2 separate regions of the Homo sapiens genome follow, and region 2 is linked to region 1. Evidence: fine-mapped expression QTL. Tissue or cell type: whole blood. Region 1 holds a variant in brackets; the other region holds the start of a gene. All regions are shown on one strand. Distances are from middle to middle.

What was found. PIP is the estimated chance that this variant, and not a neighbour inherited with it, causes the effect.
Region 2: it holds the start of SORD, and the variant in region 1 is fine-mapped to the expression of SORD in whole blood (INTERVAL, PIP 0.99).

What each region holds. Positions count from the first base shown.
Region 1 is chr15:44,991,619-44,999,804 of GRCh38, forward strand. No RefSeq gene overlaps it. Among named protein-coding and RNA genes, the nearest start is that of SORD, 27 kb to the right of the region's middle. The variant C/T (reference allele first, on the strand shown) is at 4,213.
Region 2 is chr15:45,019,116-45,027,301 of GRCh38, forward strand. SORD (sorbitol dehydrogenase) reads left to right here and starts at 4,080. Exons shown (of 9, transcript NM_003104.6): 1 at 4,080-4,234. The coding sequence starts at 4,169. RefSeq lists silencers at 3,860-4,029, 6,593-6,881 and an enhancer at 4,799-5,449.

The DNA of each region.
Region 1 (8,186 bases):
AAATCTACATTTGATTTGTGTACCTGAAAGTGATAGGGAGAATGGAAACAAGTTGGAAAATACTCTTCAGAATATTATCCAGGAGAACTTCCACAACCTAGCAAGGTAGGCCAACATTCAAATTAAGGAAATACAGAGAACGCCACAAAGATACTCCTTGAGGAGAGCAACACCAAGACACACAATTGTCAGACTTACCAAGGTTGAAATGAAGGAAAAAATGTTAAGGGCAGCCAGAGAGAAAGATCAGGTTACCCACAAAGGGAAGCCCATCAGACTAACAGCAGATCTCTCGGCAGAAACTCTACAAGCCAGAAGAGAGTGGGGGCCGATATTCAACATTCTTCGAGAAAAGAATTTTCAACCCAGAATTTCATATTCAGCCAAACTAAGCTTCATAAGTGAAGGAGAAATAAAATCCTTTACAGACAAATAAATGCTGAGAGGTTTTGTCACCACCAGGCCTCCCTTTATAAGAGCTCCTGAAGGAAATAGTAAACATGGAAAGCAACAACCAGTACCAGCCACTGCAAAAACATGCCAAATTTTAAAGACCATCAATGCTAGGAAGAAACTGCATCAATTAACAGGCAAAATAACCAGCTAACATCATAATGACAGGATCAAATTCACACATAACAATATTAACCTTAAATGTAAATGGCCTAAATGACCCAATTAAAAGACACAGACTGACAAATTGGATAAAGAGTCAAGACTCATCAGTGTGCTGTATTCAGGAGACCCATCTCACATGCAGAAATGCACATCAGCTCAAAATAAAGGGATGGAGGAAGATCTACCAAGTAAATGGAAAGCAAAAAAAAAAAAAAAAAAAAAAAGCAGGGGTTGCAATCCTAGTCTCTGATAAAACAGACTTTAAATCAACAAAGATCAAAAGAGACAAAGAAGGCCATTACATAATGGTAAAGGGATCAATTCAAAAAGAAGAGCTAACTATCCTAAATATATATGCACCCAATACAGGAGCACCCAGATTCATAAAGCAAGTCCTTAGAGACCTACAAATAGACTTAGACTCCCACACAATAATGGGAGACATTAACACCCCACTGTCAATGTTAGACAGATCAACGAGACAGAAGGCTAACAAGGATATCCAGGACTTGAACTCAGCTCTGCACCAAGCGGACCTAATAGACATCTACAGAACTCTCCACCCCAAATCAACAGAATATACATTCTTCTCACCATCACATCACACTTATTCCACAATTGACCACATAATTAGAAGTAAAGCCCTCCTCAGCAAATGTAAAAGAACAGAAATCACAACAAACTGTCTCTCAGACCACAGTGCAAACAAATTAGAACTCAGGATTAAGAAACTCACTCAAAACTGGAAAACTACATGGAAACTGAACAACCTGCTCCTGAATTACTGGGTAAATAACGAAATGAAGGTAGAAATAAAGATGTTCTTTGAAACCAATAAGAGCAAAGACACAATGTACCAGAATCTCTGGGATACATTTAAAGCAGTGTGTGAGGGAAATTTATAGCATGAAATGCCCACAACAGAAAGCAGGAAAGATCTAAATTCAATACCCTATCATCACAATGGAAAGAACTAGAGAAGCAAGAGTAAACATATTCAAAAGCTAACAGAAGGCAAGAAATAACTAAGATCAGAGCAGAACTGAAGGAGATAGAGACACAAAAACCCTTCAAAAAAATCAATGAATCCAGGAGCTGGTTTTTTGAAAAGATCAACAAAATAGATAGACCACTAGCAAGACTAATAAGAAATGAGAGAAGGATCAAATAGCCACAATAAAAAATGATTTGCATTCCTCTGATGACCAGTGATGATGAGCATTTTTTCATGTGTCTGTTGGCTGCATAAATGTCTTCTTTTGAGAAGTGTCTGTTCATATCCTTTGCCCACTTTTTGATGGGGTTGTTTGTTTTTTTTCTTGTACATTTGTGTAAGTTCTTTGTAGACCCTGGATATTAGCCCTTTGTCAGATGGGTAGATTGCAAAAATTTTCTCCCATTCTGTAGGTTGCCTATTCACTCTGATGACAGTGTCTTTTGCTGTGCAGAAGCTCTTTAGTTTAAAATCCCATAGAAATACAAAGTACCATCAGAGAATACTATAAACACCTCTATGCAAATAAACTAGAAAATCTAGAAGAAATGAATAAGTTCCTGGACACATACACCTTCCCAAGACTAAACCAGGAAGAAATTGAATCTCTGAATAGACCAATAACTGGTTCTGAAATTGAGGCAATAATTAATAGCCTACCAACCAAAAAATCGTCCAGGACCAGACGGATTCACAGCCAAATTCTACCAGAGGTACAAAGAGGAGCTGGTACCATTCCTTCTGAAACTAATCCAAACAATACAAAAAGAGGAAATCCTCCCTAACTCATTTTATGAGGCCAGCATCATCCTGATACCAAAGCCTGGCAGAGACACAACTAAAAAAGAGAAATTTAGACCAATACACCTGATGAACATCGATGCAAAAATCCTCAATAAAATACTGGCAAACTGAATCCAGCAGCACATCAAAAAGCTTATCCACCACGATCAAGTAAGCTTCATCCCTGGGATGCAAGGCTGGTTCAACATATGCAAATCAATAAATATAATCCATCACATAAACAGAACCAATGATAAAAACCACATGATTATCTCAATAGATGCAGAAAAGGCTTTTGACAAAATTCAACAGCACTTCATGCTAAAAACTCTCAATAAACTAGGTATTGATGGAATGTACCTCAAAATAATAAGAGCTAGTTATGACAAACCCACAGCCAATATCATACTAAATAGGCAACAAATGGAAGCATTCCCTTTGAAAACCAGCACAAGACAAGGATGCCCTCTCTCACCACTCCTATTCAACATAGTGTTGGAAGTTCTGGCCAGGGCAATCAGGCAAGAGAAAGAAATAAAGGGTATTCAATTAGGAAAAGAGGAAGTCAAATTGTCCCTGTTTGCAGACGACATGATTGTATATTTAAAAAAACTCCATTGTCTCAGCCCAAAAACTCCTTAAGCTGATAAGCAACTTCAGCAAAGTCTCAGGATACAAAATCAATGTGCAAAAATCACAAGCATTCCTATACGCCAATAGCAGACAAGCAGAGAGCCAAATCATGAGGGAACTCCCATTCCTGATTGCTACAAAGAGAATAAAATACCTACGAACCCAACTTACAAGGGATGTGAAGGACCTCTTCAAGGAGAACCATAAACCACTGCTCAATGAAATAAAAGAGGACACAAACAAATGGAAGAACATTCCATGCTCATGGGTAGGAAGAATCAATATCGTGAAAATGGCCCTACTGCCCAAGGTAATTTATAGATTCAGTGCCATCCCCATCAAGCTACCAATGACTTTCTTCACAGAATTGCAAAAAACTACTTTAAAGTTCATATGGAACCAAAAAAGGGCCTGCATAGCCAAGATAATCCTAAGCAAAAAGAACAAAGCATGAGGCATCATGCTACCTGACTTCAAACTACACTACAAGGCTACAGTAACCAAAACAACATGGTACTGGTACCAAAACAAATATATAGACCAATGGAACAGAACAGTGGCCTTAGAAATAACACCACACATCTACAACCATCTGATCTTTGAGAAACCTGACAAAAACAAGCAATGGGGAAATGATTCCCTATGAATAAATGGTGCTGGGAAAACTCGCTAGCCAAATGTAGAAAGCTGAAACTGGATCCCTTCCTTACACCTTATTCAAAAATTAACTCAAAATGGATTAAAGACTTAAATGTAAGACCTAAAACCATAAAAACTGTAGAAGAAAACCTAGGCAATACCATTCAGGACATAGGCATGGGCAACAACTTCATGACTAAAACAACAAAAGCAATGTTAACAAAAGTCAAAATAGACAAATGGGGTCTAGTTAAACTAAAGAGCTTCTGCACAGCAAAAGAAACTGTCATCAGAGTGAACAGGCAACCTACAGAATGGGAGAAAATTTTTGCAATCTACCCATCTGACAAAGGGCTAATATCCAGAATCTACAAAGAACTTAAACAAATGTACAAGAAAAAAACAAACAACCCCATCAAAGAGCGGGCAAAAGATATGAACAGACACTTCTCAAAAGAAGACATTTATGCAGCCAACAGACACATGAAAAAATGCTCATCATCACTGGTCATCAGAGAAATGCAAATCAAAACCACAGTGAGATA[C/T]CATCTCCAACAGTTAGAATGGTGATCATTTAAAAGTCAGGAAACAACAGATGCTGGAGAGGATATGGAGAAACAGGAACACTTTTACACTGTTGGTGGGAGTGTAAATTAGTTCAGCCATTGTGGAAGACAGTGTGGCGATTCCATGGAATACAATGCAGCCATAAAAAGAGTGAGTTCATGTCCTTTGGAGGGACATGGATGAAGCTGGAAACCATCATTCTCAGCAAACTATCACAAGGACAGAAAACCAAACACCTCATGTTCTCACTCATAGGTGGGAGTTGAACAATGAGAACACATGGACACAGGGCAGGGAACATCACACACCGGGGCCTGTCAGGGCTTGGGAGGCTGGGGGAGGGATAGCATTAGGAGAAATACCTAATGTAAATGACAAGTTGTTGGGTGCAGCACACCAACATGGCACATGTATACCTGTGTAACAAACCTGCACATTGTGCACATGTACCCTAGAATTTAAAGTGTAATAGAAAATAAAAAGGAAGAAAGAGAAACAAAATGAAGCAAAAAAAACTTATAACCATTGCTTTCTTCTAATTTACAATTGTAAAGATTTCTGATTTATTTTGTTTTGGATCCCTTGTGTACAGCATAGATTTGAATTTTGCTTTATGATTTAATCCAAATTTACTTTATTTTATTTTACTTTCAATTTTTATTATTTTTTAAATAAAAAATAGAGATGGGGTCTCACTGTGTTGCCCAGGCTGGTCATGAACTCCTGGGCTCAAACGATCCTCCTGCCTAAGCCACCCAAAGTGCTAGGATCACAGGTGTGGGTCACCAAGACTGGCTGAAATTTATTTTATTTTAATACATTAGTTTAGCACATTTAGATTTATCAAATTGAAATACTTGGTATTAATTATTAATACAATATATATAACTTTATATGATGTCTTCTATTATTTAATAGATCCTTTAAAAATTCTGATGTTATGGTATGTATTTGGTTTTATTTTTTCTGAAAATCTGAAAAGGTTATATTTTTATTTCAGTGATGGTCTTTATAATGTATTTACTTAATCTTCCTCTCTTAGGCACTATCTATCAATCCCCTGATATGAATAAACAATGAAATTAGAATATTTTCTCATCTTCTCCCTATCCTGCTCTTGATGACCTCTCTTTTTGCCATAGTTTTCCCATTTATTTCTTGGTTGAAGTTCATCTTCTAGTAGTTTATTCAAGGAAAGCTCATGGAAACAATATTTCTTGAGATCCTGCCATGTTTAGAAATGTCTCATTGTGCCTTTTTATATAAACAGACAGAGATAAACACAACAGAATATGTCGAGAATTGACTCAGAAGTATGCCATGTGATGCTACCTTGAAGTCAGAATAACCTGCATTATAGCTGAAATAAACTTTAAATTACTATTCCTTTTTACCTTCCTCCCTTCCTCTCTCTCTCTGTCTCTCTCTCTCTCTCTCCTTCTCCACTCACTGCAGCCTCCACCTCCTGGGTTCGAGTGATTCTCCTGCCTCAGCCACCCAAGTAGCTGGGATTACGGGCATGTGCCACCACACCTGACTAATTTTTGTATTTTTGTATTTATTTTTTATTTTATTTTTTTGTAGAGACAGGGTTTCACCATGTTGCCCAGGTTGGTCTTGAACTCCTGAGCTCAACCGATCTGCCTGCCTTGGCCTCCCAAAGTGCTGGGATTCTAGGTGTGAGCCACTGTGCCTAGCCGCTTTTTTAGTTTCTAATCCAGCTGCTCCCATATCAGACCTCATCTTTTTAAATTTTATTTTCTGTTTACCTCCCTCCATTCATTCACATGCTCATTTGAGAAGACTTAAGTTCTCCCAGCTTTGGACAATAACTGCTTTTAAAAACTGTAAGGTTTCAAGAGAACGGTTGCCCAAGACTGATAATTGTTTTACAAATGGAGCATGTGTATTATGCGGCCAGTGTCTTCACTCTAACTTGGTTATAAGACTGAAACCATTCTTCACTGCTCTAACATGCTGAATAAATCAACTGAGGGGGAGGAGGTGTTTATCCCTGTCTGTTTATATATGTTATATGCGTTGTCATGAGGCTGTGTGACTTATCTAAGTGGAATATTGAATATCCATTGAAATGGATTTGTTAAGTCATTTATATTATTAATGAGCATTTAAATGCAACAGATATCATTTCAGGTGACTTCACATGAATGAATAAAAGTCAGTGCTATTCCATTATTTTTTGCTTGAAAAAAATAGACTTTGTACATCAGAGTGAACTCCTCACCCTAGAGAAGTATAATTTTCTAGCTTTTGCCTTAAGGTCTTCAGCCATAGGCCTTCTCACTACCTTTCTTCTTGCACCCTGGCATTTCCTACAGTGTAAAACACTGGAGGATCTATGTGAACCCCTGGGTTGGGTCACTTGCTAGGCTCTAGTTGCTGTTGTTGTTTTTGTTGTTTTGTGCCACTCTCTCCTTGTTCACTGTGATTCTGCCACACTGCTGACTTTTCATGATGGTCTCGCCCTCTTGGACTCCACGTTTGTGGTTCCTTCTGCCTGGAACACACAATCTCCCTCCCTAGCCTCACTGCTGTCACAACTCAAGTCTCTCAAGTACAGCTTTATCTATCACTCCCTCAGGGCAAACTTCCCTTGCTTTCAAGCTAGACTAGGTTCCTCTGCTACACACTTTCATGGTTTTCTTTTCTTTTCCTTCATAGCCCTTACCATAATTGTGTTTGAGTCATTACTTCTATGATTATCTGCTTAATGGCTTCTCCTCCCCTAAGTGGGGATTGTGTCTGTCAGATTCATTGTATCCCCAGCACCGTGTACCAGCATGTCACAGACACTTATTACATAGTTGCTGAATAAATGGATGAATGATCCCGTCCCAATATGGCTCCCACTCCCATCTTTCCACCAAAACTCCGTTTGCATGATTACCAATTACCTCCTTGTTGCTGAATCCACTAGATATTCTTTGGTTTCCATCTTGACTTCTTATCAGTATTAAACACTTGAACACTTTTTTCTTAAAACAATGCTTTTTGTGCCTTCACTTATTCTCAGGATCCTTTGCTGTTTCCTCTTCATTTTTCCTAGTTCCTTGATGTTTGATGCTCAGAGCTTGGACCTGAGCTATGTCCTTTTTCAAATTGTGTGTTCAGTCTCTAGATTATCTTCTTCTCACTTACTGCTCTCAATAGTCTATATACCAATGACTTCCAAATTTCATCTAGACCTTCAAGCCTAGACTTTCCCAGTCTCCTACATAGCACGTGCCCTATATTGTTTGGTCATTTCACCTGGATGTCTGCTATAGGCATCTGCTATAATTTAGATGTTTGTCCCCCAACACCTCATGTTGAAATTTGATTCCCATGTTGAAGGTAGGGCCTAATGGGAGGTGTTTGTGCCATGGGCATAGACGACACATGAATAGATTAATGCCCTCCCTCTGGGGTTGGGGAAGTGAGAGTGAGTGAGTGAATTGTTGCTCTGTTAGTTCCCACCAAAGCTGTTTGTTAAAAAGAGCCTGGCACCCCTCTACTCTCTCTTGCTTCCTCTCTCACCATGTACTCTCTGCACACCTTGGCTCCTCTTTACCTTCACGATGAGTAGAAACAGCCTGAAGCCCTCACCAGAAGCAGATGCTGGTGCCATGCTTATCACACAGCCTGCAGAACTGTGAGCCACATAAACCTCTTCTTTATAAATTACTCAGCCTCAGGTATTCCTTTATAGCAACACAAAACAGATGAAGACAGAAAATTAATACTGAGGAGTGGGTGTTGCTATAAAGATACTTGAAAATGTGGAAATGGCTTTGGACTAGTTAATGGGCAGAGGTTGGAAGAGTTTGGAGGGCTCAGAAGGAGAAAAAAGACTAGGAAAAGTTAGGAACTTCTTACATATTGGTTAAATAGTTGTGACCAAAATGTTTATAGACATATAGACAGTAAAGGCCATGCTGACAAAGTCTCAGAT
Region 2 (8,186 bases), 27 kb after region 1:
ATCCTGTCATTTTGATGTTAGCTGGTTATTTTGCCCATTATTTAATGCATTTTCTTCCTAGCATTGATGGTCTTTAAAATTTGGCATGTTTTTGCAGTGGCTGGTACTGGTTGTTGCTTTCCATGTTTAGTGTTTCCTTCAGGAGCTCTTGTAAGGGAGGCCTGGTGGTGACAAAACCTCTCAGCATTTGCTTGTCTGTAAAGTATTTTATTTCTCCTTCACTTATGATGCTTAGTTTGGCTGAATATGAAATTCTGGGTTGAAAATTCTTTTCTTGAAGAATGTTGAATATTGGCCCCCACTCTCTTCTGGCTTGTAGAGTTTCTGCTGAGAGATCCAGTGCTAGTCTGAGGGGCTTCCCTTTGTGGGTAATCCGACCTTTCTCTCTGGCTGCGCTTAACATTTTTTCCTTCATTTCAACCTTGGTGAATCTGGCAATTGTGTGTCTCGGGGTTGCTCTTCTTGAGGAGTATCTTTGTGGTGTTCTCTGTATTTCCTTAATTTGAATGTTGGCCTGTCTTGCTAGGTTGTGGAAGTTCTCCTGGATAATATCCTGAAGAGTGTTTTCCAACTTGTTTCCATTCTCCCTGTCACTTTCAGGTACACCAATCAAATGTAGATTTGGTCTTTTCACATAGTCCCATATTTCTCGGAGGCTTTGTTCATTTCTTTTTACTCTTTTTTCTCTAAACTTCTCCTCTCACTTTATTTCATTAATTTGATCTTCAATCACTGATATCCTTTCTTCCATTTGAATGAATTGGCTGTTGAAGCTTGTGCATGCATCACATAGTTCTTGTGCCATGGTTTTCAGCTCCATCAGGTCATTTAAGGTCTTCTCTACACTATTTATTCCAGTTAGCCATTCGTCTAATCTTTTTTCAAGGTTTTTAGCTTCTTTGCGATGGGTTTGAACATCCTCCTTTAGCTGGGAGAAGTATGTTATTACCAACCTTCTGAAGCCTACTTCTCTCAGCTCATCAAAGTCATTCTCCGTCCACCTTTGGTCCGTTGCTGATGAGGAGCTGTGATCTTTTGGAGGAGAAGAGGCACTCTGGATTTTAGAATTTTCCGTTTTTCTGCTCTGGTTTCTCCCCATCTTCGTGGTTTTATCTACCTTTGATGCTGGTGACCTACAGATGGGGTTTTGGTGTGGATGTCCTTTTTGTTGATGTTGATGCTATTCCTATTTGCTAGTTTTCCTTCTAAGAGTCAGGTCCCTCAGCTGCAGATCTGTTGGAGTTTGCGGGAGGTCAACTCCAAACCCTGTTTACCTGAGTATTACCAGTGGAGGCTGCAGAACAGCAAATATTGCAGAAGAGCAAATGTTGCTGCCTGATCCTTCCTCTGGAAGCTTCGTCCCACAGGGGCACCCGCCTGTATGAGGTGTCAGTTGGCCCCTACTGGGAAGTGTCTCCCAGTTAGGCTACATGGGGGCCAGGGACCCACTTGAGGAGGCAGTCTGTCCATTCTCAGAGCTCAAACACTGTACTGGGAGAGCCACTGCTCTCTTCAGAGCTGTCAGACAGGGACGTTTAAGTCTGCAGAAGTTTCTGCTGTCTTTTGTTCACCTATGCCCTGCCCCCAGAGGTGAGGTCTACAGAGGCAGCAGACCTTGCAGAGCTGCGGTGGGCTCTGCCCAGTTCAACCTTCCCGGCTGCTTTGTTTACCTACTCAAGCCTCAGCAATGGCGGACGCCCCTCCCCTGCCAGGCTGCTGCCTCAGACTGCTGTGCTAGTAGTGAGCAAGGCTCTGTGGGCGTGGGACCCACTGAGCCAGGCACAGGATTTAATCTCCTGGTGTGCCATTTGCTAAGACCGTTGGAAAAGTGCAGTATTTGGGTGAGAGTGTCCTGATTTTCCAGGTACAGTCTGTCACAGCTTTCCTTGGCTAGGAAAGGGAAATCCCCCAACCGCTTGCGCTTCCCGGGTGAGGCAATGCCCCTCCCTGCTTCGGCTCACCCTCCATGGGCTGCAGCCACTGTCCAACCAGTCCCAATGAGATGAACCAGGTACCTCAGTTGGAAATGCAGAAATCACCGTCTTCTGCATCGATCACACTGGGAGCTGCAGACCGGAGCTGTTCCTATTTGGCCATCTTGGAACGGAATCTGGATGATTTACTTTTGGCTACCAATTTGGAAGCCTCATGCCAGCAGGCTACTCTAGATCTCTTGAACTTTCTAGGTAATCAAGCGGGCAAGGTGTCTAAACTGAAAGCCCAGCTCTGCCTACAACAAGTCAAATATCTAGGCCTAATCTTAGCCAGAGGAACCAGGGCCCTCAGCAAGGAACAAATACAGCCTATACTGGCACCGGTCCCTCAAGGCGTAGCACCAACCAGATTGATAAACTCACTTATCTGACCTTGTGGCCCTCGCCCAGAAACTGACTCAGTCCAAGAAGACAGCTTAGATCCCCTATGATTTCATCTCTGACCCAAACAATCAGCACTCCTGACTCACTGGCCTTTCCCCACCCATCAAACTATCCTTAAAAACTCTGAGTCCCCGTATGCTCGAATGCTTGGGGAGCCGGATTTGAGCAATAATGAAATTCCAGTCTCCTGCATAGCTGGTTCTGCATGAACTCTTTCCCTATTGCAGTTCCCCTGTCTTGATAAATTAGTTTTGTCTAGGCAGCAGGCAAGGTGAATCCATTGGGCGGTTACATATTGGGGAGGGGGGACTGTAAGGGAATGAAATCCTGAGCATTATCCTCAAAGGAGGGAGGGGCCTTATAGACTTAGGCCTATCTAGAAGCGCCTCTCTCCTCAGAGAGTAAAACCTCACTGTTTCTCAGAGGGCTGAGAGGCTTGAAGGAAGAGTTTGGGCAGAAACTCTGCTTTGAATAGAAGCAGCAGATCCAGTTGAGAGAAAGAGGTTCACAAATTCCATTTCATGGCTTTTTTTTTTTTAAAGACAGATTTTCACTCTTGTTGCCCAGGCTGGTGTTGAATGGCATGATCTCAGCTCACTGCAACCTCTGCTTCCCAGGTTCAAGCTATTCTCCTGTCTCAGCCTCCCGAGTAGCTGAGATTAAGGCGCATGCCACCATGCCCGGCTAATTTTTGTATTTTTAGTAGAGACGGGGTTTTCACCATATTGGTCAGGCTGGTCTCGAACTCCTGACCTCAGGTGATCCACCTGCCTCGGCTTCCCAAAGTGCTGGGATTACAGGCAAGAGCCACTGCGCCCGGCCTCATGTCTTTTTTATACTTAAGCACCAGGCCCATGTAATGATGCACGAATTCATTTACTCCTACTCGTGCCAGGCCCTTTCCTGGGGGCTGGAGACAAAGGGCCGACGTGGACGCTGCGTCATGGTAGCACCTGTCTCGCAAAGTGCACACCGTGCTCCACCCACAGCCTCAGCATTCTCGTTGCTAGGAATATGGACCCTCAGGCAGCACCTCAGACCTAGACCTACTGTATCAGAATCTCTGTGCTGGTCCTGAGAATGTGCATTCTCAACAGCGCCTCACATTCCCCACCCCAATTCTTCTGCAGCTAACGTTTGAGAGCGCTGGTCTGGTGCCTACTGCCTCTGCAGGCGGTTTTCAAGGCAGCCGTGTGTGCTTGCATGTGAGGCGGCAAAAACAGCGCGCTGCAGGGCCGGCGCGGTGGCTCACGCCTGTAATCCCAGCACTTTGGGAGGCGGAGGCGGGTGGATCACGAGGTCAGGATATCGAGACCATCCTGGCTAACACGGTGAAACCCCGTCTCTACTAAACAAAAATACGTGGTGGTGGGCGCCTGTAGTCCCAGCTATTCGGGAGGCTGAGGCAGGAGAATGGCTTGAACCCGGGAGGCAGAGCTTGCAGTGAGCCGGGATCGCACCACTGTACTCCAGCCTCGGCGACAAACAAACAAACAAACAAAAAAAACAGCGCGCTGCAGATGGAGCCAGCACCCGGGCTTCTCGCTCCCAGCCCCCTCCCGAAGCCCCGCCCCGCCTCCGGGTCTGGAGGAGGCTGGGAAGCCCCGCCCCTCCACGCTAGCGCCGCCCAGGCTGGCACAAAGGAGGAAGCCTAGTCCCGCCCCTGCGTGCGGCGCTTCTCCCAGGCCCCACCTTCCATCCAGTGCCCTGGACCCTCGGCTGGGTAGCGCCACCAGAGCGACCAAACGTCCCGCGCCTTCCAGGCCGCACTCCAGAGCCAAAAGAGCTCCATGGCGGCGGCGGCCAAGCCCAACAACCTTTCCCTGGTGGTGCACGGACCGGGGGACTTGCGCCTGGTAAGCTGGGAAGGAGGGTGGGAAGCATACCGATCCTGCCTCACTCTCCTCTGAGCCCAGCCATAGTCCTGGCTTCCCACTTCCAGCCTGGCGCCGGCCCCGCACCTTAAGCGCCCTGGCTGCCCAGATCCCAGCTGGTTCCCCTCGGGGTGTGGGGGCAGCAGGTAGTGGCTGTTGCGAAGGGCAGGGATCTAGTCGTGTGCCTCCCGGAACCTAGCCCCGTGGCTGGCACGTGGCCGGTGCCCAGGACGGTTGCAAACTGTTTGAATGAAGCTTTCTCTCTCCTTTGCCAGCTGCAGATTCATAGTCCAGCCTCTTGTCATTGACCTTTCCAAAGGAAATGCTAAGGCTGTCTGAATTATCGGGGCAGACCGTGCAGAGCAGAGAAAGGGGGGCCAGAGGACACTTAGAAACAGCAGAACTTGTATTTAACTCCCTTGCTTGGGACTGATAAACCTCCCTTGCAGGATTATGATGATCACAAGAGTACTCAGCACTTAGTACGTGCTCAGGAAGTGCCAGCTCCTTCTCCTTTCCTTCCAGTCTAGGCCTCCATCTCCAGAACCCCTGCTGTTCCCCTTGCCTGTGCCAGACTTGTGGATCTTGATAGCTCCCTTGTCTGTAAGGATCCTTCTCTCCCTAAGACCCTGTCTGGTTCACTTTCCAGCAGTTTTTCTTTCCAATCCCGTGCCTCTGTCCCTTTAGGAGCATTCTGTATGTGTGTCCTCTGCCTTAGACCCTGCCTTTTGCTCCCTGGCTTGTGGCACCAAAGTTTAGGAAGTGGCTGAGTCAGCAGCCTAGTCATGCCAAGCCTCCCTTGACAAAGTCCCTCTCAGATGGGCCTGGGATGGCAGTGGGTATGTGGGATGAGTGCCAGCCATCTCTGCTGCTCCCCTGTACCTCTTTTCCCTCAAAGTACATGCGTCAGTATGTAAACTGCAGTAATTCAGAAGCTTATCCAGGTTAGCAGTTCTTGACTATTTAAGAATCTGTGGTGTCCCCTCCACAGAATGCAAATAGACTGAGTTTGGCAACAATTTCAGACTGCTCAAGGACTCCCTTTAAGCCGCTCTAAGCCCCTCTATAGAACCCTTGTCCCAGCTGACTCTCCATCTCCTCAGTTGAAGAAAGTACCATACCCAAGGTGATAGGTTTTGTTAGTTAACAGAGCCACGACAAGGACTCAGATGTTCAGACTCCCCATTCTAGTGCTCATTCCACTCTTTGGAGCCTCCACCCAAGGTCCTGAATTAAAGTGAGGCTGTTAGTGTTTACTGTTGCAAATGCCAGATGGTATTATGAGTAAGGGAAAGTGGTCCAGCTCTACCCAGCTTGCAGAGTGATTTCCAACTCAGTACTTCATTCCACAAACATTCACTCATGAAAGGGTGCCTGCCATGTGCCAGGCACTGGGCTGAGGGCCCAGAAAGGAGGACACAGCCCCTGCTCCCAAGTTTACTGAGGGAGGCAGACAGATAAAGTCAACAATTATGACAGAGCCCGAGGGCTTTGATGGAGGCCTCAGAGAGAAAAGACGCCACAGGGAGGGGCCCTTGGCCCTCTATCTGCTCAGAGCCTGCTTAAAAGTCATGCACCTAAGGTGCAGAAACACAGTTAAGTTCTCCTTCATCTTACCTCAAACTCATGGTCTTCCACTGCTCAGGCAGACTACCTCTACTATGGTTCCGTAGACAAAGCTTTGAAGATTAGAGCAGCAGCGAACTAACCTTGATCTCATCAGCTTTGCATTAGAACCCACTCTCTGACTGGATTAGGGGCTAGGTTGGGGTGGCTGTAACCTGAAGTATCTAGAAAATATGATGGGCTAGAGAATTTCACCTTTGGTTGTGTGCTGGAACACTAGCTGGGTAAAAGAGTTCAGAGGAGGATTTAGGAAAACACCTAGGCTCAGTTTGAGAATGGGAAGTGGTAGCGTCATTTACTAGTCAGAGTAGATTAAAATGATGAGATCAGGTTTGAAAAGTTGAGTTTAAGATGTCTCTGGAGGCCAGGTGTGGTGGCTGATGCCTGTAATCCCAGCACTTTGAAAGGCCAAGGTAGGCAGATCGCTTGAGGTCTGGAGTTTGAGACCAACCTGGCCAACACGGTGAAACTGTCTCTACTATAAATACAAAAATTAGCTGGGTGTGGTGCCACATGCCTGTAATCCCAGCTACTTGGGAAGCTGAGAATCGCTTGAGTCTGGGAGTCAGAGATTGCAATGAACTGAGATCGTACCACTGCACTCCAGCCTGAATGACAGCAAAACTATGTCAAAAAAAAAAAAAAAAAAAAGATGTCTCTGGGACAGGACACAAGGTGCCTTTGAGAAATTTCCTTGGGTGCAGGGGTCTGGAGTGCAGGGATACTATCAGGGGTGGAAATGTAAACTCAGGAGTCCTTTGCTCCTCTACTGAGCAGTACTGCACTGCCCCGCCACCCAGGAGACATTTGGAAATGTGTCAGGGAGGCTTGGTTGTCACGATGACTGAGGAGCACTACTGCGGACTTTATTCAGTTCATAGTGCTATCTTGCACAACAAAGAGTTGTCCTGTCCCAAATAGTGCCCTATGGGGAATTATGGATGGCTGAGCTTGCCTGGGCTGAGTGAACCATGTAGAGTGAGAAGGAAAGAAGAGGAGGACATTACCCTGGAGAGAGCCCCAACACTGGAGGGGAAAGGGCAGAAAGAGTTGTCAGCAGAGGAGACCCACTGTGCTGCCTCAGGTGCACCTGCAGCTCAACACAGACCTTCTGGGCCCTCGCCACTCCTTCTCAGGCATGGTCTTCCACCAGCACCTCCACAGTGCCCAACCCAGACCCCGAGTGTGGTATCACTGCTCCTCCATCTTTTCCTTAAGACAAATAGGCTCAGTGGCTTGGGTTTGGGGTCAGTAGTAAACCAGAGATAGCAACTAGGAGGAACAATCCTGGGGAAGCTTTGAGGGGAACCACCCATTTTCCTCTCTGCAAGAGGACCAAAATGAAACCCAGAATTTCCTGGGCTTAATAAATTGTCAGCAAATGCATTTTGGGGGGAAAAAAGCCTTGGTTGGATATGAACTACAAAAAAGATAAGAGGAAGTGGGGAGAATTTGACTGTTTTCTTCTTTTGATGTAAGACCACCAGCCACAGATTAAAAACCCTTCCATTTCTGGCTGGCTGGGGAACTGCAGCCCAGCAAACTGTGGCCGATTTAGGTATACAGGGGGGCAGGGTCTACTGATAAAATGGTTCAGTGCCTCAGGAACTCCTATGAAGGGAGTTGTTTGGGGAAACTCTCATTCCTAAGATCTTTTCAAAAAATGTATAAATTTTCAAGGGAAAAGTGTATCATTTAACTTACATCATTATTTGCTTTCCAAAAAGTGTATAAATCATTCCTAAAATCTGAAGCAGGTTTCCAAAGCATTCTGAAGCAGGAAGCAATGTCTCAACCTTTCCCACTGCTGCCATCCTACTTGAGATAAGGCCAGGAACCAGCCAGCGTCTGGGGCAGTGGTTCTGTGGGGGAATGCGACCTTAGTCCACTTTACTTGTCCTTTAACTGGCAGGAAGGAAACCTACCACACAGCCTCCCTACTGCCTAAGGAGACTGCACCATTCTCTTCTTTCTTGATGTATGGCTGCACGGAACAAAAAATTAAACTCCTCACCTACTAATTAGTTAATGATCACCTTGACCACAGCAAGGAGGAGCATTTATAAATTGGGTGGTAAGTCAGACACACACTAAGACCAGTGGTTTTCTTTTATAGTTAGGAGAACAAAACGAAACAACAATCTGAGACTTAAGGATTTTCGCTTTTCCCTTCATTTTGAATAGAGAAAGTTTGAGAGTTGGAGGGAGGAAAAGGGACTGATGACCAAGTTGATGTATAAAGAAGCAAACAGTGTCAGCTTGCTGGGGTTCTCTCTAAATGGAAATAGTACGAAGTTCCCAAACCAGG